Homo sapiens: one gene and its partners. The protein of the gene in region 6 purifies or fractionates together with the protein of the main gene of each other region. This does not show direct contact. Each region holds a gene or a part of one and is shown on either strand. Other genes may lie near its edges.

What was found.
Region 1: the proteins of YAP1 (region 6) and AMOTL1 purify together in Homo sapiens (affinity purification with mass spectrometry; 8 studies listed by BioGRID and IntAct, with this or other methods). This does not show direct contact.
Region 2: the proteins of YAP1 (region 6) and NF2 purify together in Homo sapiens (affinity purification with mass spectrometry; 7 studies listed by BioGRID and IntAct, with this or other methods). This does not show direct contact.
Region 3: the proteins of YAP1 (region 6) and CCDC85C purify together in Homo sapiens (affinity purification with mass spectrometry; 5 studies listed by BioGRID and IntAct, with this or other methods). This does not show direct contact.
Region 4: the proteins of YAP1 (region 6) and RNF187 purify together in Homo sapiens (affinity purification with western blotting; 3 studies listed by BioGRID, with this or other methods). This does not show direct contact.
Region 5: the proteins of YAP1 (region 6) and HIF1A purify together in Homo sapiens (affinity purification with western blotting; 3 studies listed by BioGRID and IntAct, with this or other methods). This does not show direct contact.
Region 7: the proteins of YAP1 (region 6) and ALB purify together in Homo sapiens (affinity purification with mass spectrometry, with the first as the bait; 3 studies listed by BioGRID). This does not show direct contact.

What each region holds. Positions count from the first base shown.
Region 1 is NC_000011.10:94,862,050-94,866,300, reverse strand, and holds part of AMOTL1 (angiomotin-like protein 1), read right to left. Parts: intron 1,567-4,251; coding exon 1,441-1,566; intron 360-1,440; coding exon 133-359; intron 1-132. UniProt on the Homo sapiens protein: Inhibits the Wnt/beta-catenin signaling pathway, probably by recruiting CTNNB1 to recycling endosomes and hence preventing its translocation to the nucleus.
Region 2 is NC_000022.11:29,609,847-29,614,097, forward strand, and holds part of NF2 (merlin), read left to right. Parts: intron 1-4,251. UniProt on the Homo sapiens protein: Probable regulator of the Hippo/SWH (Sav/Wts/Hpo) signaling pathway, a signaling pathway that plays a pivotal role in tumor suppression by restricting proliferation and promoting apoptosis.
Region 3 is NC_000014.9:99,593,916-99,598,166, reverse strand, and holds part of CCDC85C (coiled-coil domain-containing protein 85C), read left to right. Parts: intron 1-4,251. UniProt on the Homo sapiens protein: May play a role in cell-cell adhesion and epithelium development through its interaction with proteins of the beta-catenin family. May play an important role in cortical development, especially in the maintenance of radial glia.
Region 4 is NC_000001.11:228,489,793-228,493,696, reverse strand, and holds part of RNF187 (E3 ubiquitin-protein ligase RNF187), read right to left. Parts: intron 645-3,904; coding exon 423-644; intron 1-422.
Region 5 is NC_000014.9:61,726,360-61,730,610, reverse strand, and holds part of HIF1A (hypoxia-inducible factor 1-alpha), read right to left. Parts: intron 3,906-4,251; coding exon 3,793-3,905; intron 3,159-3,792; coding exon 2,956-3,158; intron 1-2,955.
Region 6 is NC_000011.10:102,116,592-102,120,842, reverse strand, and holds part of YAP1 (transcriptional coactivator YAP1), read right to left. Parts: intron 1-4,251. UniProt on the Homo sapiens protein: Transcriptional regulator with dual roles as a coactivator and corepressor. Critical downstream regulatory target in the Hippo signaling pathway, crucial for organ size control and tumor suppression by restricting proliferation and promoting apoptosis.
Region 7 is NC_000004.12:73,410,601-73,414,851, reverse strand, and holds part of ALB (albumin preproprotein), read right to left. Parts: intron 2,857-4,251; coding exon 2,727-2,856; intron 1,433-2,726; coding exon 1,218-1,432; intron 1-1,217. UniProt on the Homo sapiens protein: Binds water, Ca(2+), Na(+), K(+), fatty acids, hormones, bilirubin and drugs. Its main function is the regulation of the colloidal osmotic pressure of blood. Major zinc transporter in plasma, typically binds about 80% of all plasma zinc.

The DNA of each region.
Region 1 (4,251 bases), 7.3 Mb from region 6:
TCCCTCCCCACTTCACAGATGAGTAAACTGAGACCAGGAACTATTCAGGGACATTTCCGTGTCCCATGAGTGGCAGAGAAGCTGTCTGGTCTTGCTTTTCCAATCATGGTCTGACAGAGGTGTGGGGCTCACCTATGCTCCCCTTCCAGGTCTTCTCTTCCTTCTTTTCCTCAGCCAGCTGGCTGCTGGTAAGAGAGGTCTGGCGAGAGTGTGTCCCAGTAGCTGCTGCTATGGATGGAACGGAGCGGGCAGGACGTAGGCTGGAGGAGTCTGTCTTCCCGGCATCTTTACGAGATCGCTGCTGCAGGACCTTAATCATAGCATCTTTCTCTATGATTTTGGCATGGAGATTTTTAATACTGTAAAACAAAACAAAACAGTCTCCATAAAAAGCCACTTGGCTAGAAAAACTTGAAACATTTATCTCAGGCTGTCCCAAAGACTTTAATTGTAATTTAGGGATACAGGATGAAGCACAGTACGAGTCTTCAAATGTTGATAATCTCCAAATTGTTAAGACAGGTCTTTTGTCATATGTCAAAAGAGTACACCTTCTCTGGCACCTTGGGAGACTGGGACTTCAGCGAGGTACAGTTAGAATGACCGTGGCCACATTCCTGGACCGAAGTCGGCTGGGGACCATATTTAGAGGGTCTAGCATTGGCGGTGGGGGCCGGGGGTAGGTAGGGGATAGGGAAGCATAAAAACTCTAAAGCCTCAAACAGGGTGAGCTTTCAGCTAAAGTCAATTTCTCTATTTTCTAAGAAAAAAGAACCAAGATGAACAGGTTCTCTGGTAGAAGATGATTTTTCTGGAAGAATGCTGAGTTATTTTCACAACTTTGATAGTAACTCACTGAGCCTATCTATCAATGGCTCAACTACTCAGCCCTATTTTCACATCTGCAAAATAAGAGGCCTAGGGCTCCCAGGGTTCCACAAGCCCTTAGGTAGTGAAGGGGGACAGGCTAGTTTTATTATGTCAAAAAGTCTGCTGGAAATTTTGTGTAGCCCATCAGAAGAGTGCATTAGCTAAATATGTTCTTTATTTTGGACTGGAATATATAAATTCTGGCTCAAAAACTCTGAATCTTTGGGATATAATGTTTCCCCCTTTCAGCTCATAATGTCATAGAGATAGACACCAAGAAATAACACAGACATCTAAATTCTTCTGTCACTAGACTCAGCCTGCATCTTAAAACCGGCAGGTGACACGCAATTTCCCCCAGAGAACTCCGGCACCAGATCCATTGCTGAGTGGAACCACGTGCTTAGGTTGGAACCTTTTCCTTCTCTCCATGGCACAGCATGGGGGAGGAGAGTTTTTGGAGACCTCATGCTCACAGCCTTTCAGAACAGGACAGAGAAGCAATCTGTTCTGGAAGGCCTGGAGTGTGAATGCAGCGGGCCCCACACGTCACACATAGTCGTCCCTTACGTGTATTCCATGTCCTGACACCTTCTGTTGGCCTGCACCACCTCCTCCTCCTCTTGCCAGATGTGGGCCTCCAGCGAGCTCTCTCCGTAGCTGCCATTCCGTGAGTGGTTGATGATCGTGGTGTCCCTGGCAACACAAGGATATGCGTTTGATCATAGGAAACCTTCTTGCTTTGTCTCAATGCAAACAGACACAGAATGGAGAGGCTGGTGTTCATGCTGGAACAGAGATCAGCTCTGCATCTCGCATTGGCTCATGAAGCCTTTCCCTCCCAATTTCCCCAGCTCAGTTATCAATCTCATCTGATGCCCATACAGAGAAAGGTGTAAATGCTTGTGGAGAGGTGATCACAGGGTGCCGTGCTAAAACTCCACAAACTCCTTCACCCACTTTTCCTCTCCTGAATTCTGTCCAATTCTCTTCCTTAACTAGATAGAATTAAGCAGCATCTAAGGAAAACAAAATAAAATTCAAAAATCAAGTCCCCTCCCCCTTCTGACTACATTATGTATGTAGCTACATGGCATGTTATGAATATGTAAAATGGGCACCTAGAGATTTAATCTACTGACTTATGGACACTATTATTATTATTATTATTATTATTATTGTATTTGTTGGTGTTTCCATGCTTGTACTTTTTCATGCTTGTCCTATACCTCACTTTTCCAATCAGAGTTTAGGTTTTATTTCTGTTTATCATCCATACAGCATAGAATGCCTACTTCAGTATTTTACAGTAAAATGGGGGCTCAGTAAATACTTAAAACTGAGACTGGTCCTCTCAGAGAGTGAGGCTCCAAGCTGAAGTCTTCCTTCATGTTGTATTCTGTCTCACTTCTTGTTTTATGGGCCCTGCCTGGGATGCAGGTCAGGACAATGTAATAGGCATGCCAGGGTCCAGGACAGAAAGAAGAAGGCAGACACTGTCCTTGACAAGTTCAGGTGAGGTGGGTGCAGTGAGGGCAAGGGCAGACACGAGAAGATCAAGAAGCAGTTTCACTGCAAGCATCTGTCTGACTATAAACAACCAGTCACAGATAACTATTCCTGCCACTGGTTTTGACAATTTAATTACTACTAACTAACAATGATTAGTAAAAATAAGATCACTGCATCATCTAAGTGATATAGCTCAAGATGAAAGGCACAATAATGGCTCTGACTACATGAGTATTTAATTAGTAAGACATGATGTAGCCAAGTATTTCACATCTTTTAACTTCATATTCCAATGTACAATCATACTGAAAAACTTTTTTTTTTTTGAGATGGAGTTTCATTCTTGTTGCCCAGACTGGAGTGCAGTGGCGTGATCTCAGCTCACTGCAACCTCCACCTCCTGAGTTCAAGCGATTCTCTTGTCTCAGCCTTCCAAGTAGCTGGGATTACAGACATGCGTCACCACATCTGGCTAATTTTGTATTTTTAGTAGAAATGGTGTTTCACCACGTTGGTCAGGCTGGTCTCAAACTCCTGACCTCAGGTGATTCACCCGCCTCAGCCTCCCAGAGTGCTGGGATTACAGACGTGAGCCACCGCGCCCCGCCTGAAAACTTTAAAGCTTTTTTTTTTTTTTTTACAGAATAGCCCAAAACAGAAAAATAGAGGCCCCTTTAATGACAGCTATCAACATTAATGAGCATTTACTTCATACAGGGACTGGGTAGGGCACGGTACACATGGTCTCTCATTTAGTTCTCACAACTTGTGCACAAGGTATTATTATCCTCAATTTCTAGATGAAGAAACCAGGGTTAGGTGACATTTCCAAGAATACTCAGTTAGTGAATAGTGAAAATGGATTCTAACTCAGGTATTTATGACTCCAAAGTCCATGCCCCTAACCATCGCTCTATACTCCTGCAAGTTTCATATGTCTTTAAGAAGAAGGTCTCAGCAAAGATGAGTAAAGATAAAAACAAACCAGAGGGCATATGTGAGAATGTGGCTCAGAAAAGTGCAAAGTGTCATTGAAAATACACTAAAGGCCAAATGATGTAGAAAGCAAACAAAATGCTTTAAACATATTTGCAAAATTATAAATTCACACTATGGTGCACAAAATCATCAATATAGAAATTAGTGGCTAGAAACATTTTCAACAAATTTACTTTTGGAGACTTTACATGGAGCTGGAAACAAATCTGAAAATTCATGTTTACATTGCCAAGTAAGGAGAGCAAACACAATTAGAGGAAAGCAACTTAGATAGTAAATATATAAAACTCTGAAAGAAATATTACATTGCTTTGAAATTTTTAAAAATTTTCAAAACCTTCTGCACACATAAAAGATAAGCTGACTCTCTAAAAATTCTGACCAACACCATCAAGATGCATAAAGATGGGAAAACCAGTTGGTTTACAGAAGTTATTTTCTTTGTTTAAAAATCATTGATTATAAATATAAAGCATGCATCTGTGGTTGAAAAGTCACAAAACTAATGGCTGGAAATAGTCATTTTTACCAATTTGACTGTGGCCATTTAGCACCTAGTCAATAAGAGCTCAAAATGTGTACCTTTCTCAAAAATGTTTCATTTTCCTTTTTTCTCTTACTGAAAAGAAAAAAGCAATTCTGAAATGACAGAGGTTTTCTTTGAAAAGAACATTAAGATTGGAGCTATCTGAGGTTCTCTGAACCTATTCCCCCACCCAGAAGGGGTAGTCTGTAATGGGGAGGGTAGTTGCTCACAGAATTATTAGATGCTCAATAAATATGTGTAAAAGCAAAGAAGGAGGGGTGACGGGGATGGAAAGGGGCTCCCTCTGCCCATCCAAGACTCCAAATAAGGCAGAGAAGGGGAAC
Region 2 (4,251 bases), on a different chromosome or scaffold from region 6:
TTTCTGTATTTCTGAAAAGAATTTTGTTGTTTCTCAGTTGTTTTCCAAAAGCAAAGGAAGTCTTAATGTTTTTTTCTATTTCGTGTTATGTGTGATTTGTTTATATGCTTGGTAATATGAGTCTAATGGAATTTAAAAATATAAGTTTGGGTAGGATAGTATACCCTTAAAAAATAAATAAATAATTAGAGAGAGAGAGAGAGAGAGAGACCTGGGCACAGTGGCTGTTGCCTGTAATCTCAGCACTTTGGGAGGTCAAGGCAGGAGGATCCTTTGAGGCCAGGAGCTTGAGACCAACCTGGGCAACATAGAGAGACCCCAACTCTAAAATATACATACTATATCTAAACTCAGCTAGGCGTGGTGGTGTGAGCCTGGAGTCCCAGCTACTCAGGAGGTTAAGGTGTGAGGATCACTTGATCCCAGGAGGTTGAGGAGGCAGTGAGCTATGATTGTGCCACAGTGCTTCAGCCAGGGTGACAGAGTGAGACCCTGTCTCTTAAAAAAAAGAAAAGAGGCTGGGTGCAGTGGCTCATGCCTGTAATCCCAGCACTTTGGGAAGCCAAGGTGGGCAGATCACGAGGTCAGGAGTTCAAGACCAGCCTGTCTAATATGGTGAAACCCCATCTCTACTAAAAATACAAAAATTAGCCGAGCATGGTGGAGTGCGCCTGTAGTCCCAGCTACTCGAGAGGCTGAGGCAGGAGAATCGCTTGAACCCGGGAAGTTGGAGGTTGCAGTGAGCTGAGATTGCGCCACTGCACTCCAGCCTGGGTGACAAAGTGAGACTCCATCTCAAAAAAAAAAAAAAAGAAGAAAGAAAAGCAAAGCAAAGCCCAGGCCTGTACCTACTAGAGGTCCTGATAACTTCACCACTGAATTCTATCAAACATTTCAAGAAAAATTAATACAGTTCTTCACAAAGTCTTCAAAAATGAAAAAGAGGAGAAAATACTTACAAACGAATTTTATGAGACTGGTATTACCCTGTTGCCAAAAACCAGGAAAAGACATTACAAGAAAAGAAAACCATAGACAAATATATCTTACAAATGTGGAAGCAAAAATCCTCAACAAAAATACTAGCAAACTGAATCCAGTAACATATAAAAATAATTATATACCATAAACAAGCAGGATTTATTCCAGGAGTGCAAGGTTGGTTTAACATCCAAAAATGAATTAGTGTAAATAATGTAATGCATTATATCAATAGAATAAAAAACAAAAATCACCTTGTCATCTCAGTAGACACAGAAAAAGCATTTGACAAAATTCAGCATGTTTTTCATGATAAAAACACTAAATAAACTAAGAAGAGAAGAGCAGTTCCTCAACCTGATACACAGCAGTTATGAAAAACCCACAGCTAACTTCATAATAGTGAGACTGAGGCCAGGCACAGTGGCTCACGCCTGTAATCCTAACACTTTAGGAGGCCAAGGTTGGAGGGATCACTTGAGGTCAGGAGTTCAAGAACAGCCTGGCCAACATGGTGAAACCCTGTCTCTACTACAAATACAAAAAAAAATTAGCCAGGTGTGGTGGTGCATACCTATAATTGTAGCTACTTGGGAGGCTGAGGTGGGAGGATTGCTTGAACCTGGGAGGCAGAGGTTGCAGTGAGCTGAGATAGCACTACTGCACACAATAGGCTGGGCGACAGAGCTCAAAACAAACAAACAAACAAACAAAATAGTGAAAGACTGTATGCTTATCCTTAAGATTAGGAAAAAGAGAGATAAGTCTACTTTCACTACTGCTATTCAGCATTGTACTGGAGGTTCTAGCCAGGGCAATTAGGCAAGAAAATGCAATAAAATACATCTATGTTGGAAGGGAACAAGTAAGATCATCTCTGCAGATGACATGATCTTGCATATAGACCCTGAGGAATCCACTACCAAAGTATTGGAACTAATAAATTATTAGTTTAGTAAGGTTATAGGATACAAGATCATTACACAAAACTTAGTTGTAAATGTATCCACTTGGAATGAACAATCTGAAAAGGAAATTAAGAAAATTCCATTTACAATAACCTAAAAAATAAAAATACTTATAACAAAAGAGGTATCTTTTTTTCCATCCTCTGACAGTTTAGTAAAAGAAAGTATAAAACTTATACTCTAAAAGCTGTAAAACATTTTTGGTTTTGTTTTTTAAATTAATTTTTTTTGAAACGGAGTCTCACTCTGTCGTCCAGGCTGGAATGCGGTGGCGCGATCTCGGCTCACTGCAACCTCTGCCTCCCAGGTTAAAGCGATTCTCCTGCCTCAGCCTCCGGAGTAGCTGGAGCTACAGGTGTGCACCACCATGCCTGGCTAATTTTTGTATTTTTAGTATAGAGGGGGTTTCACCATGTTGGCCAGGCTGGTCTCGAACTCCTGACCTCAGGTGATCCACCCGCCTCAGCCTCTGAAAGTCCTGGGATTACAGGCGTGAGCTAGTGCGCCCAGCCTGGCCTTTTAAAATATTTAATTAATTGATTTTTTTTTTTCTCGGACTTGCACTGAAGTGAGAACAAGTGCAGTGGTGCAATCATATCTCAGTGCAGCCTAGACCTTCCAGGCTTAAGTGATCCTCCTATATCAGCCTCCCAAGCAGCTCAGACCACAGGCATGCGCGATCATCCCTAGCTTTTTTTTTTTGTTTGTTTGTTTTTTAATTTCTTGTAGAGACAGAGTCTCCCTGTGTTACCCAGGCTGGTCTTGAACCTGACCTCAAGCAACCTCCCATGTTGGCCCCTCAAAGTGCTGGGATTACAGGTGTGAGCCACCGTGCCTGGCCTGTAAAACATTTTTAAAAGAAAGAAGATATAAATAAATAAATAAATAGAAAATAGCTCTTGTTCATGGATCATAAGACATAACGTTGTCAAATTGGCAGTATTTTGGAAATTGATCTACACGTTTGACATAATCCCTGTCAGAATCCCAGTTTATTTCATTGTAGAAATTGACAAGTCTCCAGGCGTAGTGGCTCATGCCTGTAATCCCAGCACTTTGGGAGGCCGAGGCAGGCGGATCACCTGAGGTCAGGAGTTCAAGACCAGCCTGGCCAACATGGAGAAACCCTGTCTCTACTAAAACTACAAAATTAGCCGGGTGTGGTGGCACATACCTGTAATCCCAGGTACTCGGGAGGCTGAGGCAGGGAATCGCTTGAACCTGGGAGGCGGAGCTTGCGGTGAGCTGAGATCACGCGCCACTGCACTCCAGCTTGGGCAACAAGAGCGAAACTCCATCTCAAAAAAAAAAAAGAAATTGACAAGTCAATTCATAAATTCCTATGGAATCGCAAGGGACCCACAATAGCTAAATCTTGAAAAAGAACAAAGCAGAAAGACTCACGCTTTGTGATTTCAAGACATACTATAAAACAACTAATCAAGACAACGTCACCAGGCACCGTGGCTTATGCCTATAATCCCAACACTTTGGGAGGCCAAGGCAGGCAGATCACTTGAGGACAGGAGTTCGAGACCAGCCTGGGCAACATGGCGAAATCTTGTCTCTACCAAAAATACAAAAATTAACCGGGCGTGGGGGTGCACACTTGTAGTCCAAGCTGCTTGGGAGGGCTGAGGCACAAGAATCCCTTGAACCCAGGAGGTGGAGGTTGCAGTGAGTCGAGATCGTGCTATTGCACTCCAGCCTGGGGGACAGAGCGAGATTCCATTTCAAAAAAATAAAAATAAAAAGACAGTGTGGTACTGGTATAAGGATAAATGTGTAGATCAGTGGCATAGAATTGAGAGTCCAGAAATAAACCCAGTGGAATAGAGTTGAGAGTTCATGGTCACCTGATTCTTGACAAGGGTGCAAAGACCATTCAGTGGGGGAGAACTGTCTTGTCTTGTCTTTTCTTGCTACATGCCACAGACTGTGAGAAGGAATAGTCCTTTCTTTTCTTTTTTCTTTTTTTTTTTGAGATGGAGTCTCGCTCTGTCATCTAGGCTGGAGTGCAGTGGTGCAATCTTGGCTCACTGCAACCTCCGCCTCCTGGGTTCAAGTGATTTTCCTGCCTCAGCCTCCTGAGTACCTGGACTACAGGCGCCTGTCACAACGCCCGGCTAATTTTTGTATTTTTAGTAGAGATAGGGTTCCACTATGTTGGCCAGGCTAGTCTCGAACTCCTGACCTCGTGATCCACCTGCCTCAGCCTCCCAAAGTGCTGGGATTACAGGTGTGAGCCACCGCACCCGGCCGGAATAGTCCTTTCAACAAATGGAGCTGAGACAACTGGATA
Region 3 (4,251 bases), on a different chromosome or scaffold from region 6:
GATACGTGTAGCCTCTGGCGGGTGGCAGCCCCTGATGTGCGAAGGCCCCATCTCCCGCTGCAGCGCTCGGCACCCCGCATGCCGAGGGGCATGTAGCCCTCTGGTTAGTGATCTGCCTCCAGGGTCAGAGAGCCCTGGGTGAATCTTGGCTTTGCCACCTGCTTTATGGCCGTGGCAGCTTACTGAACCTCTAAGCCTCAGTTTCTTCATCTATATCCTGAGGCTAATAATGTCTCGATCCTAGAACTGGGCCTTAAAGGATGGGTTCCATGTCCTTTCATTATTTCCTGGCCTCTGCGGATTTGCCTTCCCTGGGTGGGAGTGGGAGATCCCCTGACACACGCTGGTACCCAGTGTAGGGTCGGAGGCAGCTGAGTCCTCATCTAGTTGAATGGAGGGAGCCAGCATTCCAGGCAGGAATAAGAATGGCTAAGGTTTGGAAGTGGGGTCTGGAGCATGGCATTGAGAATCCGGGGCCTGCAAGGTGGACCCAGGATGTGTGTGGGGAGATAACTCTTAGGGGGGTTAGTGCTGTGGGCAGCCCCACAGGGCAGACCCCAAAGTCCCAGCTTTTCAGACTTCAGTGCCCACAAGCAAGAGTGGCCCAGGTGGCCTGTGTTGCCTCCAGGGCTGGGGAGCGCTGTGTCAGGGGAGGTTGCGTGGACACTGAGAAGGGGCATTCCTGAATCCACTGAGGATGGGGCTTGTGGACACCCCAGACAGCTCTGGGAATCTGGTTGAGATGTGGGTTCTAAGACACGCCCCACATTACAACTGGGAAGGGAAAATGCCCAGCTTTGAATGTGTGTGTTCAATCCAATCTGGTTGAACCCAGAGCCAGGTGGGAAGCGGGACTTGACCTCACAGGTGGTAATTTGCTCTTCAGGAGGAAGGGAAGCGTCTGCGGACTTCACTGAGCATTTACTGCCTCTGAGGTCTGAGTGCCTCCTGAGCAGTGATTCTTGGAGTCTGGCTTGGGGGGTGGTGGTTCTGGAGCATCACTCTGGTGACCACTGTGGTGTGGGCTGGGCTGGGGGAGCAGTGGGTGGAAGCTGAGGGCTTCCATCGGGAGGAGGTTCTGGCCAGGAGAGTGGCCACAGGAGAGAGCCTTCTGTAGGTTCCAGACCTGGTGAGTCTGCTCCAAAGTCCTGCTCTCAGCTGCTATCTGCCTTCTCATGACCTCTGTCCTCTAGGGCAGGCGTCCTGAGCTCTTGGGTGGGGCTCAGGCAGGACAGCGCCTGTGGGAGATGCTGCCGCTCCCAGGTGGCTGCTGTGCCCTCCATCCCCAGCGCTGATGCTGCTCCCCGCTACTCCCATCCCTACATCTAGGGTGGTTGGGATCAGCGTCTGGGATCTAGGCAGGGACCACTCTGGGGTTCAGAATTCTCATCTCCCTGCTACATAACAACAAGAGACTCTATTGGCATCCCCAAAGGCTTGGGGATAGAGGAACAAACTTGTCTGCTAAAGGGACTTGATGCTTCTTTGATCATAACATGTCAGAAATGGTCCCCCTCCCCTAGGCAAGCACCCAGGATTGGACACTCATACATCCCCTGTCCTCACAGGCAGAGGGTTCTGGGCAGGCCTGGAGCCGGGTCAGCCGGGGATGGGTGCCTGTTCTTCAGCAGGTCACCGCTGACCTCCAGCTCTTGAGGGGAGCAGAGCAGAAAGATCAGGATTGTATTGACTGCCTGTAAGTGTTCTTGGGTTTGCCTTATGTGTACTGTTCAAACAGAGGCGTGGAGCATGTTTAACTACAGTAGATGGCCCTGGGGAGGAAGCGAGGGTCTGATTCCCTTTCCTTCTTCCTGATTCCTCAACGGCAGAGACATTCTGCCATTTCCTCAGTTCAAAGCTGGGCATTTTCCCTTCCCAGTTGTAATATGGGGCGTGTCTTAGAACCCATGTGGACATTTGCTGGCAGGTCTTCCCCTCTCTGCCCCTGGAAAAGCCCTTGAGTAGACTGTGTCTGCGGCTGATGGTATCTGAGAGTGGAACAAATGCCAGGCCCGGGAGAGCCGGAAACCCCTGAGCAAACTTCACAGAGTCCTAAGGCACTAAGAGACTTGAGAAAGACAGGGGCCCACCCCAGGGCCAGCCACATGGGTGCTGGAGCCCTCCCTGCCCACCTGGGGCCCTCTGTCATTACTGTCTCTTCATCTGGGAGTTTATGAGCCTGGGACTCTGGTCCTCTTGACTCCCAGCCTTGGCACAGAGTGGCAGGTTCTGAAAGTCTTTTGGATGGAACAAACGTGTGCCTGGCACTGTGCTGACAGCAACTGGGTTTTCTCTCACTCGCCTCCCACAACAGTTGCTGGTCCCCATTGGGGTCCCTGTTTCATCTAAGGAACAGGCCCAGGATGGTGAGGCAAGTTACAGCAGGGGCAGGGTGGGGCTGGGCCAGGTCAGGGACTCCCGTCCAGTTGAACCCGGAGCCTGTGCCAGCCGGTATGTCCCGGTTCCCTTGCCCTGTGGGTGTGATTATTCATCATGCCCCTTTCCCTCAAGGAAATGCCCAGGTTGGGCTCTTAACCTCTTCAGGTGTGCTGGGAGCTCAGAGGAGGGGTGGCCGAATTGGGAACTGAGATGGGCCTTGAAGATGGAGTTAGTAAAAGCAGAAGAGAGCAGGTAAGAAGAGAGACCAGGCTTCGCAGAAAGAACAGCTGAGCTGGGCGGATCACCTGAGGTCAGGAGTTCAAGACCAGCCTAGCCAACATAGTGAAACCCCATCTCTACTAAAAATACAAAAATTAACCAGGTGTGGTGGCACGCGCCTGTAATGCCAGCTATTTGGTAGGCAGGAGAATCTCTTGAACCCAGGAGGCAGAGGTTGCAGTGAGCCATCGCGCCACTGCACTCCAGCCTGGGCCACAGAGCAAGACTCATCTCAAAACAAAACAAACCAAAACCAAAACCAAACGAAACCAAAACAAAAAGAAGAGCCGAGCAAAGTCATGCGGTGGGCATTTGCCTGCACCTTGGGTTCAGCTGGGGTGATGGATGAGTGGGGACCCAGGACAAGCACTGGGGCAGTGAGCAAGGCCAGGGCCGGTGGGGTCTTTGAAGCCTCTTCTACTGTCCCTGAAGTCCCTAGGTTGGGCTTTCCTTCGGGGTGTGGGCAGTTCTAGCTCTAACCTTTTCTGATGGACTTTCCAAGAGGACCCAGAGTTACCTGTTAGAAGTCCTATTAGAAACTGGAAACTTTTTACAGCTTATCCCCATCTTTCCCCTGCTCCCCACCTGATAAATATGCAGACACATCACCTGCTGGGCCTGAGTGGCCTTGTCAGCTGACATGCTCCCTGCCTGGGGGTCTTGGAAGATTACTAGTGTTCTGTGGATTGGACGATCCAGACAGAACCAGTGGCTTCAGCCCACTTGAGACCCAACCATGTGTAAGTCTGTGCCTCTCCCTGGGCCCTCATTTTCCCATCTGTAAAATAGGAAGCTTGGATGGGCTGAGCTGAGAGTCCCAGGGACCCTCATCTCTTCTGGCCCTTTGACTCAGAGCCACAAGGAAGGGGTGGCCTCCCCTGCCCATCCTGCCTCCTATCGGTCACTCAGTGGTCCTATGAGCCAGCTCTTTTATATTCCTGGGAATTCTCTTCCTATGCCCTACAGCCTGGGTTTTATCACCTGCCTCGTGGTTGGTCCTTGCCTTGGGGCAGGTGTGGGGATGGTGAGGCTACCTGTGACCACATGGGTCCCACTGTGGGGCCTAGAGATGGTGACCTGTCTAAACGCTGTTTGAGGCTGAGACCCTGGCCCAGACCAGCCTCCCCTCCTGCAGGGCCCCAGTGGAAGTACCTGCCTCCCCTATCTGATTGCCTCTGCTTAAAGGACTCAGTAAGGGGTTTAGTGCAAGAGGAGAACACTGAGCTTCAATTCCTGGTGCAGGTTTGCTGGGGACAAGGCTGCATGTTCCTGGACTCGAGGTTCCTCTGCTTGCTGTCCTGTCTCTCTCCCAGTCCAGAATGTTGTTGCAATGCATAGTCAGTGTTGGAGGGAGGAGTGAACAGTCCCGGAAGGACTGACCAGGTGCCAGATAGTGGTTGACCCACTTTGCCCACCTGTCCTTCTTTTCTCATTTGTACACTTGGCACCGAGTTAAATAAGTTACTCCCCGCCCCCCGCCCCCACCCCCAGCAAAATCAAACCTCCCCAAGAGGGTGGTGATTTACACAACCCCACCTTCCCCATTTCCCCTGAATAATTACTAAAATATATACCTTTTGGCTTTCACCAGTG
Region 4 (3,904 bases), on a different chromosome or scaffold from region 6:
TCACCTATGGCTGGCACGGGCAACTGAACCGTTCAGGGCCATCTGGGTTGCTGCAGGGTCTGGGGTTCAGGCCAGGCCCTGGGCAGAGGCAGAAGAAAAGCCCTGAGGTTGGGTTTCTTGGCTGCTTCTGCCTTCAGGACCCCAGGGCGAGGCAGGAGCCTTCCATGCTCGGGCACTCGGGATGCCAAGTGCCCTCCTTTGTGAAGGTCAGGGACACCTCAGACCCTCCTCAACTTAAAACCCCTTCCCATCACCTTCCCTGACCACCCACCCATTCCCGAAATTCAGCCCTGCAAGGCCACGGCAGTGGGAGTCAGGCTGGGCTTTTAAGCCTTGACTTCGGGCAATGGTCCCCCAATGGCTCGCTGCTGCCTGCGTCCACCCTGGCCCGATGGTGGGCAGACCCAGCGGGGCTCCCGCACCTGCAGCAGCATGCTGAGGCCCAGGTTGCGATGCTTCTTCTCCAGCTCCGAGACCGCCTGCAGCAGTGACCTGAACCGCTCAGTGGGGTCAGCCAGCTCGTCCTCAGGGAGCCCCTCCTCCTTCTCAGCCTCCTGCAGGAAATGCTCCTCCTCCTCCACAAAGAAGGCCCGCAGCTTCTTGTAGTCGGTCAGTGCCTTCTTCCTACGGTCCATCACGTGTCCCTGCAAACGGGTGGCAGGAAAAGACCTGTGTCCTCACCCACCCTCCCCAGGGGAAGGGGAACCTGTTTGCTCTTGAAGGAGTTAAGAACATGCCACTCCAAAACATGCTGCTCAGGCACATCGACTATTAGGCCAGGCACAGTGGCTCACGCTTGTAATCCCAGCACTCCAGGAGGCCAAGGCGGGCGGATCATGAGGTCAGGAGTTCAAGACCAGCCTGACCAACATGGTGAAACCCCGTCTCTACTAAAAATACAAAAATGAGCCAGGCGTGGTGGCACGCCTGTAATCCCAGCTAATCGGGAGGCTGAGGCAGGTGAATCACTTGAATCCAGGAGGCGGAGGTTGCAGTGAGCCCGAGTTCATGCTACTGCACTCCAGCCTGGGCGACAGAGCGAGACTCCATCTCAAAAAAAAAAAAAAAAAAAAAAAAAGCCAGGCACGGGGGCTCACGCCTATAATCCCAGCACTTTGGGAGGCTGAGGCAGACAGAACATGAGGTCCGGAGATTAAGACCATCCTGGCCAACCTGCTGAAACCCCATCTCTACTACAAATATAAAAATTAGCTGGGCGTGGTGGCGCACGCCTGTAGTCCCAGCTACTTGGGAGGCTGAAGCAGGAGAATCGCTTGAACCTGGGAGGCAGAGGTTGCGGTGAGCCAAAAAAAAACAAAAAACAAAAAAAAAAACAATAACAGAAGAGGCCTGGCACGGTGCCTCATGCCTGTAATCACAGTACTTTGGGAGGCTGAGGTGGGAGGATTGCTTGAGCCCAGGAGTTCGAGACTAGCCTGGGCAACAGTGAAAACCTGTCTCTACTAAAAATCAAAAACATTAGCCAGGCATAGTGGTGCACACCTATGGTCCCAGCAACTCGGGAGGCTGAGGTAAGACGATCGCTTGAGCCCAGGAGTTTGAGGCTGCAGTGAGCTATGACCATACCACTGCACTCCAGCCTGGGCCAACAGAGCAAGGCCTTTTTTAAAAAAAATCAAAAAACAGTGCAAGATCACCCTGACCTCCATTCTGCTTCTTAAAAGCAAATGAAATTCCCAAGTGAAAGACGCCCTCCCCATATCAAATAAAATGATTTTATCATCAAGGACGACAGGAAGTCAAGGCCGACAGAATTTGGTACAGACCTTGTGAAAACAACTCTTTCAAGCATCCCCACATCATGTAGTTGCTTTTTTACAAGTGGCTAGTCTTTGTCCAAGTCAGTATATAAGTGATTTAATTTTGCCACTTTGAGTCTTCATTTCATTATAAGGGAGCCTGTGCTGTATAAAACTTGTGTTAAATTAATATGCCTGGCTGGACACGGTGGCTCACACCTGTAATCCCAGCACTTTGGGAGGCCGAGGTGGTTGGATCACTTGAGGTCAGGAGTTCAAGACCAGCCTGGCCAACATGGTGAAACCCCATCTCCACTAAAAATACAAGATTAGCCAGGCGTGGTGGTGCACACCTGTAGTCGCAGTTACTCGGGAGGCTGAGGCAGGAGAACCACTTGAACCAAGGAGGTGGAGGATGCAGTGAGGCAAGATCGCACCACTGCACTCCAGCCTGGGCAACAGAGCAAGACTCCATCTCAAAAAAAAAAAATCCTATGTTTTTTCTCCCATTAACCCATCTCCCTTTATTTTTTTTTTTTTTTTTTTTTTGAGATAGGGCCTCACTCTGTCACCCATGTTGGAGTGCAGTGGTGCCATCACAGTTCACTGCAGCCTCAACCTCTTGGGCTTAAGTGATCCTCCCACCTCAGCCTCCCAAGTAGCTGGGACCACAGATGCAACACCATACCTGGCTAATTTATTAATTTTTGTACAGATGGTGGTCTCACTATGTTACCCAGGCTGGTCTCGAACTCCTAGCCTCAAGCAATCCTCCTACACCTCAGCCTCCCAAGTTGCTGGGATTACAGGCATGAACCACTGCACCTGACCCTGTTAGTTTAGCTTATGTCAGTTTAATTCTCCCGCCCAGCCTGGGGCCCTAAAAGGGGAGAAATAGAGTTCTTTCTCCCCTACACTGCAGTGCTCAGCTGCACAGGAAGACTGTCCCTCTCCCATCTCCCATGGCCAAGGGGACAGTAAATCCTTGAGTGGCCCTGCTAGGTCTAGAGCCTGTCAGGCACGTGACTGTCAGGGCAGGACACACACCCATCTTGCCAGCAACTGTCCCTGCTGTGCCCACACCAGAACTCCAATGGCTGAAAACCATCCCATCAGCCTTCAACAAACAGCATTCACACTTGCCACTCTTCAGCTGGTTTTCAGCCAACTCCTAACCTTGCAAACAGGAGAGCAGAGCAGGATGCTACTCTGATTTTACTCAGTCATGGATGGCTTCCACCTGGCCCTGGGCCACACAGGGCAGGTGACACCCATAGTCATGAGGGGCCAAGGCTTTTGTTGCTGAGAATGCAAATGACAGCTGGGTGTCTGCTGGCTGGCTGATGCAACACGCTGCAAACTCCTTCCTTTGGATTTAGGTGGCTTCTCTCATCCCAGCATCTAAGCCACAAACCCCCAAAACAGGACAGATTGAAAGCTCCAACCTGCTAAAATCTGTGGGCAAAACAATTCCCTTGGGGTAACACAGGGTTACTGAAAACTTGGAGGTCCCCAAAGCCTTCCAGCCTCACTTGCACTGGGCAGTGTTGACCACTCACAAGGCAAGGAGAAGTTCAGAGCAGCCCCAAGGGCAGTGTGGAGTGCCAGGGGTCTGAGTGGCATCAGGGACCCCATGTGTAACCCGTCACTGTCTGAGGGAGGCCTGCACCTCAGGCCTGTGGATAGCAGGCAAGGGCTTGGCAGCACCAGGAGCACAGAGCCCACCTCAGCCTCAAGCTGGGGTAAAAACGTGGGCCTCAGCCTCGAGATGCAGCCAGTTACCCAAGAGCTGCTGCACCTGTGAAAAGCACTCTGTCTTTCAGGTTAAAAGAAGGAGATAGGAATTTATGAAACGCAGAGAAAATGGCACACAGGTTTTTACTACACGAGGAAAAAGTCACCAAATAGAGTTTAAACGACTAAAGAGCTTTACTGGTGAGTAACCTAAAAGAATCTATGGGATGTCCCCTTGGGATATAATACTGTGGAAGGCACCCAAGGAAAGTAACGCTGCTCTGGTCTGAATGTCTGTGTCCTCCCCAAATCCCCATGCTGAAATCCTCATCCCTCAGGTGATGGCGTTAGGAGGCAGGACCCTTGGGAGGTGATGAGGTTGTGAGGGTGGAACTCTCAAGAACGGAATC
Region 5 (4,251 bases), on a different chromosome or scaffold from region 6:
TTATGACTAGAGACAAAGGAAAGGCAAAACCGCTTTCAGGAAAAAGGTATGGTATAAACAAAAGATTTTTAAAAATGCTTAACATGGTGCAGGTAACAAAGATTCTATAATATGATTAGTGGAGACAGATATGAGATGATGCTGAAGAAGTAGGTAGGGGGATCAGATTAATGAAGGTATTGTTTATATTGTCATAGGAAGCTCTGATTTAATCTAATGTCAATCAGTGCTTCTCAATCTGAGGTATGTCTATCACTAAAAGATACCAAGAAGTCAAAAATATAAACTGTATATGCTTTCCTAGAAGGTCAGTTTTACACATATTAGAGCAAGAAAAGTGAGGTTAATTTAACTTTAGAGAATTACATAGGTTATATTCTATACCAAAAGGGTCGGGGTGTCCAGAAAATATGACCAAAAAGTGTTTTTAATGGACTAGGAAACCCATGATCTAAAGCAGTATACTACTCATTTATTTTGAGGCAGGAACTGTTCATCTTCATTTCTACTTTAGTGCCATGAACATAGTAGATGCTCAAATAAAGTGTTGAATAATTTTAAATGATTATTACTCAGTATAGTAAATAGCAGCTATTTGTGGAATATTTTGGAGTTGAGGAGCTTGATATGTTAGATTTTCTTAAAATTGAGCAAAATTTTTTCCATAGCTTGGTTCTCAGGGGTTATAGATGCAAGAAGTTCCTGGAAAGAGCTCTAAACCAGAAAATAACAGTCTGCTGGTCAAACTCAAAACTGTCTTGGTTGATATATGAGCTGGCTGTCTTTACTGTTACCTCCTGTCATGATCATTTTGCTAATTTTCTGCTATAACTAGAGGGGAATGTCACTCCCTTTCTCATTTTTGCTCCACTACCTTCCTTTCTCCCTGGCCTCCTCTCTACTTTGTTACCTTAAGTTTTCAAAAAAATAAAAAATAATTCCTCAAAATAGGATGGAAATCTCTGTCCCATCATACATTTACATGCTAGTAGTAAACACCTTAAAATAATTCTTAGCTTTTCTATATTCATTTTCTTAAAGTTGACACCAGTAGTGAAGCATTCACTATCTGTACTAGGCACTCAATGGACTCCTTTAATCCTGACAACATCCTTCTGAGGTCTTTTTTTTGTTTTGTTTTTGTTTTTTGAGATGGAGTCTCACTCCGTCTCCCAGGCCGGAGTGCAGTGGTGCAAGCTTGGTTCACTGCAACCTCCGCCTCCTGGATTCAAGCAATTCTCCTACCTCAGCCTCCCAAGTAGCTGGGATTACGGACATGTGCCCCCATACCCAGCTAATTTTTGTATTTTTAGTAGAGATGGGGTTTTACCATGTTGGCCAGGCTGGTTTCAAACTCCTGACCTCAGGTGATCCACCCACCTCGGCCTCCCACAGTGCTAGGATTATAGGCATGAGCCACCCCACCCAGCCATGATTCTTATTTTATAGATAAGGAATGTGAATTTTACAACAGTTAAGTACCAAGGCCAAGGCCACATTGTAAGTATCAGAGCTGCAAGCCATGAGTGAATCTAACATCTGATTCCAAAGACAGAGTTAGGGCCAGAGCATAAATATCTTTGTTTGCCATGCTAAGTTTAGATTGTATTGTGTAGGTCTATTTTTTTTCAGTCTTCTAAAATACACATCTTCTTTTGATAAATGAAAAATTTACTTCCCTCATCTAGTATTTTTATAAACAAAATATTTTTGTGTGCAAAGATGGAGGGAAGCATTTGAGGCATTTTCAACAACAGAATGACATGATCTGATTTTCACATTAGGACACCCACTTTCTGGCAACTTAGATGAAAGATTATAAGGGTACAAATCTGTTGGCAAAAAGGCAGCTATGCCAACAACTCAAGTCAAGAGTAATAATGAGCTAATGAATTCAATGGCAGGAGTGCAAGGATGGAAAGGAGGAAATGGATCAAGAGATATATGTAGATAGTAAATCTGTAAGATTTAGACACCAACTGTATGTAGCCAATGAATGTAAAAGAAAAGTTACAGATGACTTCCAAAGTTTTGCTGGAGTCATGTGTGTATGGTGGTGTATTAAACCACAATAAGCATTATAGGAAGAAAGGCAGTTTTTGATGATGATGTTGTTTGGGGGCAGTAGTAGTACAGTTGTTACAGTAATACTTAGTTTACAATACAGAAGAATATCCAGATAGAAATATTAAGTTGGCAATTAAATAGAATTAGTTACAGGAAGAAATGTGGGAAATAGTAATAGAAACCATGGGCAAGGTTGAAGCTTCTCAGGGAAAATATGTAGGATGAAGAGATGTACAAACACTTGGCTTTCTAGTCCCCAACCTAAGGTAATCTATCTTTGCTCAAAATACACACTGCATATCTTTGAAATTCTCTAAGTAAGTAGAGCCCCTATTGGGGAAAAAAAGACTCATCTTAACTTCTGGATAGCACCTAGTAAAGTAAGTGTTCATAGTACAGAGTAAATGTTCAATAAATGTGGCTGAATTAATTTACAAAGTTAATCTAATATTATAGGATGTATCATTCTGTTCAATTTAGTGGAAAGTATAGTTTAACATTGAGTAATTTTTTTTTTTTTTTTTGAAATGGGAGTCTTGCTCTGTCATCCAGGCTTGCAGTGTGGTGGTGTGAGCTCAGCTCACCACAACATCCACCTCCCAGGTTCAAGCGATTCTCCTGCCTCAGCCTCCTGAGTAGTGCCTGCCACCACGTCCCACTAATTTTTGTATTTTTTAGTAGAGATGGGGTTTCACCACATTGGCCAGGCTGGTCTCAATCTCCTGACCTCAGATGATCCACCCCCCGCTTGCCTCAGCCTTCCAAAGTGCTGGGATTACAGGTGTGAGCCACCATGCATGGCCAGCGCTGAATCTTTGCTATGGTGAATATTCAGTAATGCTGTAGACTAATTAAAAATTTCAAATTCACATTTTAGATCTAATTTACCTTTCATCACAATAAGAAAATTTCATATCCAGGCTGTGTCGACTGAGGAAAGTCTTGCTATCTAAAGGAATTTCAATATTTGATGGGTGAGGAATGGGTTCACAAATCAGCACCAAGCAGGTCATAGGTGGTTTCTTATACCCACACTGAGGTTGGTTACTGTTGGTATCATATACGTGAATGTGGCCTGTGCAGTGCAATACCTGTGTATGAAGAACAAAGCAGTTAAAAAAAATATTTACAATGCTAGGGAAAAAAAAAGCAGAGATAAGTAGTTGAGTCTGACATGGCCAGTAAGCTTTGATAAAATTTACTGTCACTAGTGGATTAATCACGTTTTTGAAAATCAATGAACATTTTTCCTATGATACCACCTATGACCTACTTCCTGCCCAGGGCCTATACATTACTCTTTAAAAAATTCCCCTCGTATAAAGTCTAGGCTGCTTTTTCATTCATCTCATCATCATGGCTGTTTGATAGTTATTTCTTGCACTGATGACTATGTTTCAACATTGAACAAAGATATAAAACCATGATTAATAGAAAATTAAGCCCTATCAGGATTCAAATATTGTGTGGCTGGCAAAGCCAACTGATTAAGCCTGGAACACCAGTGCCACAATTCACGTAATTTAAGTTTGTGCCTCAAATTGGCAAATTACTACACGGTTCTGCATTTTGGAGATCACATGCAAATGAGTTGAAGATATAAATGTTACATAACCAAACACCATGGAACTGTAAACCTTCCCTCACAATTCTAAAGTTATCTTAATACTACAATGTCTATGTATAAATAAAGTGTATAATCAATCACAAATAATTTTCACTTACCTTCCATGTTGCAGACTTTATGTTCATAGTTCTTCCTCGGCTAGTTAGGGTACACTTCATTCTGAGAAAAAAGCTTCGCTGTGTGTTTTGTTCTTTACCCTTTTTCACAAGGCCTAATGAAAGCATGAAATAAAGTTTTAAAGCAACTAAATATACAAATTTGTTACAATAAAAGTAACAAAGTGCCCATCACCTAGATCAACTGAATACCCGTTCAATTAAGTCTCAGCATGAACACAGTAATTCATTCCCCTTTTACTCACTCCAGCACACCCAAGAGATCTGACACACACTACTCAGTAGCTGTGATTCCCTGAGTTGGCTGAAAGATAATCCATATTTGGGATAACAGTTAATCATTGAAGCCAGTAAGCTTAGTCAAATACACAGAAATATAAAAATGGTATGAGTTTGCTCTTTAACTGTGCTATCGGTACACAAGAATCCCTAAAGAAAGAA
Region 6 (4,251 bases):
TACATTCCATTTTGTCAAAGCACACAGTAACACTTTAACAAGCACACTATCTTTACTCCAAATCCCAAATCAAATCTGCAGCAATTTTCATGCAAGTATCAACTCTCTAAACATACTTACTGGCCAAATAAATACCTTACTTTAAAAACAAACAGAACTCCTCTCCCTTTAGGTTAAGCAATCAATTGGAAGAAGACAAAGGAAGGAGCTTTTAATAAAATGTCCCCTCACCCACCCCCAACTGAGAATCCTGCTGAAGAACTTGATAGTCGAGTGACTAACATCCCATAAAGAGATAGAGAGACAAATTAAAGTGACAGCACATGAAGTAATGGCACTAACCACAAATAAAGCACTGAAAATATCTGGTAGAAGAAAACCCAAATAATAGATACTGCCATTTGCACTATTTTATTAATTTGCAACATCATTCAAAGAAACAACAGACTATCACTTGGTTGGTGTGTTTAAAAATTATGATTCTTCTCATGCTAGGAGCAAAATGAGGATTAAATACTGACCATTTTCCTTGTCTAGAATATTAAAGGGGAGGTGGGGAGGACTGCTGTGATTTAAACCAAACTTCTTTGTTTGCATTTAGAAGGGGTCAAGCCCTACGTAAATAAAAGTGCTTCCACGGTGGCAGTACTTGTTCCCAGGAAACTTGGTGCTACAGCACTTGAGCAACCAGAACCATGAAGCAATTCTTCTTCATAGAAACGGCAATGTCCCTTTCATGGCTTGTAGTTCTGATTAATCCTAGAATCAGAAGCCCTTTTTGTAAGAAGTGCATCACCTAGTAACCACAGTTATAGAACGACACAGCTCTTTAAGACCTCCCTTTATACAATGCTACTCAGCTATTATTAAAAACTTTCAAGCCACAATTAATGGCTAAATTATGCTATTACAGAGGGTAGCATTAAGTTTGAATAATCTTAAATCTTAGCAACTGATTTTTAAAATGACTTCACTTTGATTGGTCCTAAGCTTAAATTTCTATATATATTTTGGCAATAAAACAGTTTAGAGTTTACCTCCCCTCAAAGCCTTAAGGTACAAGGCAATGCAGAGTCATGATACCCTGAGTATTTTAAGCTGTGAATTCACATTATTTTTCTAACTACAAAGTAAAATATTTCTCTACATAACTAAAGAGGACTTATTTTAGGGTTGTAAAAACCTGGGTTTTTTTTTTTTCCAAGTTTCAACTATTTAAATGCTATCTAGATGTTTGGGTTTTTTTTTAATGGCTAAGATAAAGCTTTAGGAAAGGGTATTTTTTTTTAAATGTGACTTTAAAAAGAAAATTAGCCTACCACCTTGCAGTCAATTGAGTCTGCTACATTTAAACTTCCAGAGATAGTTCTAGAATTCTTTCTAGAACTAAGAATCATAATTTTTAAACACACCAAGTGACAGTCTGTTCTTTGAATGATGCTGCAAATTAATTAAATAATGCAAAGAAGTTCTAGTGAACTTCTTTCTTAGTTCACACTAAAAAAATTCCATTATTTTTCCCAGGGAATATGTTAATCTCTATGTTCTATTTACTCTGTCACATCTACTATCTTCCAACTGTTTTTCTTCTGCCACTGGTGAATACAGTTTCTCCAGGGTTCTCTCCCTAAATCACTGTGGCACTGTGTGCCATTCTTCCCTGGGATGCCCACCCACTGAGCAGAAGTAAGCTCTCCCCCACCCCCCAGAGCTAAGGGCGTACTTTCATCTTCTCTCTCCACTCAGCCTCAATAGCAAGACAAACAAGCAGAGACTGGCCTTCCCTCAAATAGGGAAATACTTCGTGATTGCAATTTGAACTGGTTTTTTGTTTGTGTATACATGTGCACGTGTGCAACTTAACATTTAATGGCAAAATTACAAGCTTTTCAGTTTTAAAGGGAAACTCTGGGTTATACTTGATACAGAAAGAAACAGTATAGCCTTATTCTTCATGAAACTTCCTTTTAAAGAGGCATAATCTTTATTATGAAGATACACTGTATATGTTCTGTATACAATGTATAAATACCAGGTACACTGTATATGATAACAACATACACTGTATATGTTCATAGTCTTTTTTTTTTTTGAGATAGAGTCTGGCTCTGTCGCCCAGGCTGGTGTGGAGTGGTGCAATCTCAACTCACTGCAGCCTCCACCTGCCAGGTTCAAGCAATTCTCCTGCCTCAGTCTCCTGATTAGCTGGGACAATAGGTGTGCGCCAACACACCCGGCTAATTTTTGTATTTTTGTAGAGATGGGGCAGGAGAATCACGCGAACCCAGGAGGCAGAGGTTGCAGTGAGTTGAGATCGTGCCACTGCACTCCAGCCTGGTCAACAGAGCAAGACTCTGTCTCAAAAAAAAAAAAAAAAGGAAAGAAAGAAAAAAGAATCAGCCTATGTATAGCGATCAATCACATCTACAAGGCAAATTAATATAGGAATATGGGTAGTTTTATGCCATGCAATGTCAAAAATCTCTGAAAAACATATCCTTTTTAAATTGTATACCAAGCTACTCAATATAACTTAATCAAATCACAGCCACAAAAAACCTTGAATCTTCGCAGACTAAAAACATTGTGGCCAGTTATTCAGAAAATGATAAACAATGGAAATGAAACAAAACTGTGCTTTAAAAATTATTAGAACATTATTAAAACAATGCAAATGTACAAACTTTTAAAATCACTGATCCAGATTCCTTAAATCAAATTATAAGGTCCTACATGGTACATTATATATAAGAACACATATCTTTGAACATGGTAATAGTTATAAGGCATCAGAGTCAATAAAATAAACTTGCAAGTAAAACACTCCTTGAAACCAGAGATATTATAGAATACTGAGTCAGGAAGTTATTCAGCAGCTTATAAAGAAATAGGAAGTTGTTGACCAACTACTTGAAGAACTATTTCCTGTAGGAAAACCGTAAGACAGCTGAAGAAGGTAATAACTCTCAGAGTCATAAAGAGAATGAATTCTTTTAAAATGAAAGCTCAATACGATGGTAAAGAAAATAGTTTTGAATAGTAAATGTAGTAGAACAAATATTATATGGCTAAGCCTTGTTTACATACTTCACATTCATCCCAGAGCTTGAAAACAAGCCACTGATAAATGTAACTAGCACCATACTTCCACCGTATCACTTGCCAAAGTAAGGTATGAGTCTCCTCCACAAGATCTCACTGACCTAAGGAGGGCTTTAAAACAACGAATGATTGCCTGCTTATAATCTTTCAGTAATCATGCTGCCTGGAAACTAGATGATAGGCCAACTAACTTCAAAAACTCAATCATCTATGGTCACAAGGCCAACAACTGGGTTGTTTCTTAACATTTCTAAGTTTTTTCTCAAATTACATCGTCTTGCCTGTCTGGACCATTTATAGTCAGGTTCTTCATGCCAAATATAAATCTCAATAAGTTATAGACTTTGTAACTTAAAAGTCAGTTCCAACAAATATCTAAAAAGATGCATTAAAATAAAATGTTTCATTGCGGAAACAAGTGTAAGGCAACTAATTTAAATCTTCATTCTACATCTGATGACAACAACACTCCTCTTTAGATACAAGAGGAAAGTATATAAATATTGATTACAAAGACAGCCCTATTTTAAAACATCAAAACTAGGATAAAAATGAACTTTGACAACAGAAACTTGGCACCAAAAGCTTAGTTTATCATCATCTTTGACTAATGGTTAGGATATTAATCTCATTTGTCTGTTCAGTACACAAAAAGAAGTTGTAACAACTATACGGTCCATAACATCATGGAAGTAGCTAACTGGAGAAGGTGAAATAATCTTATTTCATAACTTTTCTCCAAATTGCATAATGTTCATAAAGCAGATACTCTTTAAAATACAAAATTTTATAAGCCCACAGCATTCTTCTCCCACATCCAATGTTTAGGGGCCTCCATAGAATCCCTGACAGATACCAAGTAACCATGATTTTACCTACATTTATTGAGCAAGATTTACCTGTCCAGGAAAACTCTTCTAGTTCTTAAAAGTTTTATATAAGAAAATTCTTCCATGGAATCAAAATTCCTCACATTTCTTATATAGTAAGACTAATCCTACTCCCACATAAAAGTTCCCCAGAAACACTGAAACAACAATCATGTCTTATCTCTCCTCCTCCCAGTTTTTTCTTTTCCGGGTAAATATCTCTCTACCCTTGCAACCTTTTCTCCTATGACATAATTTGAGATTTATTTATTTTAGCCTG
Region 7 (4,251 bases), on a different chromosome or scaffold from region 6:
TGCTACTTATATCACTGCATCACCTTAGGCAACTTATTTAAATGATCAGAGCCTTAGTCTCCTTCTCGGTAGAATGGAAATAATAATAGTATCTGTCGGCTGGGCACAGTGGCTCATGCCTGTAATCCCAGCACTTTAGGAGGCTGAGGCAGGCATATCACCAGAGGTCAGGAGTTTGAGACCAGTCTGACCAACATGGTGAAACCCCATCTCTACTAAAAATACAAAATTAGCCAGGCATGGTGGTGCATGCCTGTAATCCCAGGAGGCTGAGGCAGGAGAATCGCTTGAACCTGGGAGGCGGAGGTTGTGGTGAGCCGAGATGGCACCATTGCACTCCAGCCTGGGCAACAAGAGTAAAACTCTGTCTCAAAAAATAAATAGTATCTGTCTCGGAAGGTGGATTATGAGAACTATATGACATAATCTACACAAAGCACACACTGCTTGGCACATATGAAGTCTTTGATGAATGATACTTGTTATTTTTATTAACATTTTGTTTGATTTAAACTACATCTCAAAAGGATTCTGATAAATAGATGGGCAGAGATATGTTCTTAAAATATTCTCTTTCTTCTCTGTATGAGTGAAATCTTGTAGGGTACATAATTTTAGGAAATATTATTTAGTGCATTATCATAATCCAACAACAAAAATGCAGTTTATCACCACAACTTCTGACAATATGTAAACATTTATTTTGTAATTGAGTTGCCTACCATATTGCCATTATACTGAACTTCTGGTCTTTTCACCAAATATAAAGCACCTGGTGTCAGACTCTATATTTCTTTTTATACTTCTTTGCTATCATTGCATAGATTAGATAGATAGACTAGATTAGATTAGATTAGTTAGATAGACAGGCAATACATAGTCACACACATATATTATAGATGTTCAAGAAATACACTTGGAATGAATGACTGAAGTATACATAATTTATATATACACAAAATGTTTCTAGACGTATTTTCAGAAATACCCCTAAGGAGTAAGGAATGTTGAGCTTTGCCATGAACATGTATTATTTTATGACAATGTATTCAACTAATTAACTATTTCAAAAATTGTTAAAGCCTGGGAAAGGGAAGGATGAAGAAACATTCTGGGCAGCAGGGAAATTGTAGCAACTCCACAGAAAAGCCTAGGCTATCCTCCTAAGTTGTGAGGTCATGCCAAAGCTATAAAAGAATAATTTCTTATCTACTTACATGCCCAGGAAGACATCCTTTGCCTCAGCATAGTTTTTGCAAACATCCTTACTTTCAACAAAATCAGCAGCTAATGAAGGCAAGTCAGCAGGCATCTCATCATTTTCCACTTCGGCAATGCAGTGGGATTTTTCCAACAGAGGTTTTTCACAGCATTCCTTCAGTTTACTGGAGATCGAATCTTGATTTTCACAGATATACTTGGCAAGGTCCGCCTATAAGTAAGTTGGTGGAAATTGTTCAACACGAATTGACATTGCTACACTTTCTCCTCAGACCTTTATTAAGTTGGCAGAACATATTCATTGTATTCTAAGACCATACACATATTCCTTCTATGAACATACTCTGTTTGCTCCTAAACCTGGAGATGTAGATAGGACTACAAAAACATTCCCACTTAATTAAAATAGACTAATCAGTAGCAGGTGCTCAGCTCAGTTATTTATTAATTTTATGTTTCTACTGTTAGGGCATTTAAGTTTTTTTCATTAAAACTCAATGCTGTTTTTCCAAATAATCCCCCAAAATTAAGTGCAGGCCTTTTGAAACCAAATAACTAAATAAAATATAGAAGATTTTTGAAAAATGAGTCAAGATCATAGTCATAGGCCCTGCTTACATATATAAAATAACCGCCTTAAATTTTCCAGAAAGTGCCATGAGAGATTAGGATTCTAGTATTTGCCCATAAGTTTAATCTTGAAGAAAGGGAGAAAGAAAATATTATAAGTTTTGAGAAAAGAGATATCATTCCAAATATTTGCACATCTAACAAACAGAGTTAATTAAGGGAAGGAATATAGAGAAGAAAAATACATCATTTCCAAAAATCTCTTCAAGTAGTGACCTTCTCCAAGTCCACCTACCTCCCTCAAAAAATCTTCTTAGGCTGGGCAAGGTGGCTCATGCCTGTAATCCCAGCACTTTGGGAGGCCAAGGCGGGTGGATCACCTGAGGTCAGGAGTTCGAGACCAGTCTGGACAATATGGTGAAACCCCGCCTCTACTAAAAATACAAAATTAGCCAGGTGTGGTGGCGCATGCCTGTAATCCCAGCTACTTGGGAGGCTGAGGCATGAGAATCACTTGAACCCAGGAGGCAGAGGTTGCGCTGAGCCAAGATCACACCATTGCACCCCAGCCTGGGAAACAAGAGCGAAACTCTGTCTTAAAAAAAGAAAAAAAAATCTTCTTAGACATCTACCTTGCAAGATGTTCTGCCAAGTAAAACCTTGTAACTGTTCTACTTCAGTTTAAGCCTTCATTTACAGTTAGAGCATGACTGAAAGGAGTTACAAATCAGTGAATGGGTTTATCTGGTAATTTATAGCCAGGTTAAAAACAGAAAGGTACCACCACCATAGGCAGGGAAAGATTGAAGATAGGACAGACGAAAGCACAGAAGACAATCTCAACCCACTGTCAGCTATCACCAATGATACCAAACGCATCCATTCTACCAACTTGAGCATGCAAGCTACCAAAAAGCATATCGACGACTCTTTACCCTGTCATCAGCACATTCAAGCAGATCTCCATGGCAGCATTCCGTGTGGACTTTGGTAAGATCTGTCACTAACTTGGAAACTTCTGCAAACTCAGCTTTGGGAAATCTCTGGCTCAGGCGAGCTACTGCCCTAAAAAGAAAATCGCCAATCAAAATGGTATTATCATGCGATATTTTATATGAAAACACTAGGCAAATACTATTTCTCATAAGAAAATTCAAAATGGACATACAGAAATAATTTTTAAAATTCATTAGTTCTAGTTCTGAACCAAATGGTAATCACTTATCCTTAGGGCAGAATTATCCATTTAAGAGTGTGTGTGGTAGGTAGAAATCTAGCAAGTCATAAAAGCAGAAATTAAAAAGGAACTCTAAAAGGGGCAACAGGCTGAGAAGCATCAGGTTTGGAGTCCAGATGTGACTTCCAGCTCTGGCTTTATCACTTGTTAGCAGTAGGACTTGTTAGCAGAGGGCTCAGCCTCTCTGAGCTTCAGCCTCTGCAGTGTCATGACAACATGCTAAATTGAAGAAGTTTTGAGGATTAAATTAGATAATACATACAAAAGCATTTTATAATCTGGGAAGTACTACACAAACTCCAGTTATCTTTTTTCTCAATTGAAACACATTTTTTCTGACTTCTAAAGGTCTCTTAGAAAAGAAATCATAACTTCTACAGAATGAGGGAGTTTTTATTGATCTTACTTATAAAAAGAAAGATCCAGCACTATCTTCAAACTCTATGACAAGATGTAAACGTCTAATTTTCTTCATTCTCTAGTCATTTCACAGTTGCCTAAATCAGGTAAAGGTGACTTCTTTCCCAAAACCAATCATAGCCTGTTTATCTGTGTATAATTTTATGTTGGGGCTGTTTTTTTTCATAAATTTGGTTGATTTTGGTGGTGTAGATGGTAGGAATGATGAGCAAATACAGTTCAATTGACAGTTTCTAGAGAGCATGCATAATGTCTATTATTTTCATTTTATTTCCTGTTGTGTTGATTTGCTGTTGACTAGCAGGTGAGGAGTGTGGGTGACGGGGCAGCTAGTATTTTTCTTGACTCGGCTATTAAAGTATGCTCCCAGAACCAACTAAGTAATATGAAAACAGAGGCTCAGGCAAAAACATGAGATGAAGATCAGAGCTGGAGCTATGCAAAAATAAGAAGTAACTTCAACTTAGTTGGTGACTGAATTTAACTATAAGACATAAAAGGACAAGCAAATAGTTTTAGATCATTGGGGGGAAGATAAAATTAAATAAAGGGATTATATATGTTGTATACTTATATCAAAATATCTCATATACCCCGTAAATATGTATACCTACTCTGTATCCACAAAAATTAAAAATAACTTTAAAAAATTAAATAAAGAACCATGCCTACAGCTCTATAAAAATAATGAACCATTAGAATAAGAGTCCAAGATTTTATAAATAAATAGAACTTAAATATCTGTCCCTTTTTTTAGGACAAAAAGGACAGCGTCCTCTAAATTATTCAACTATTTAGAAAAG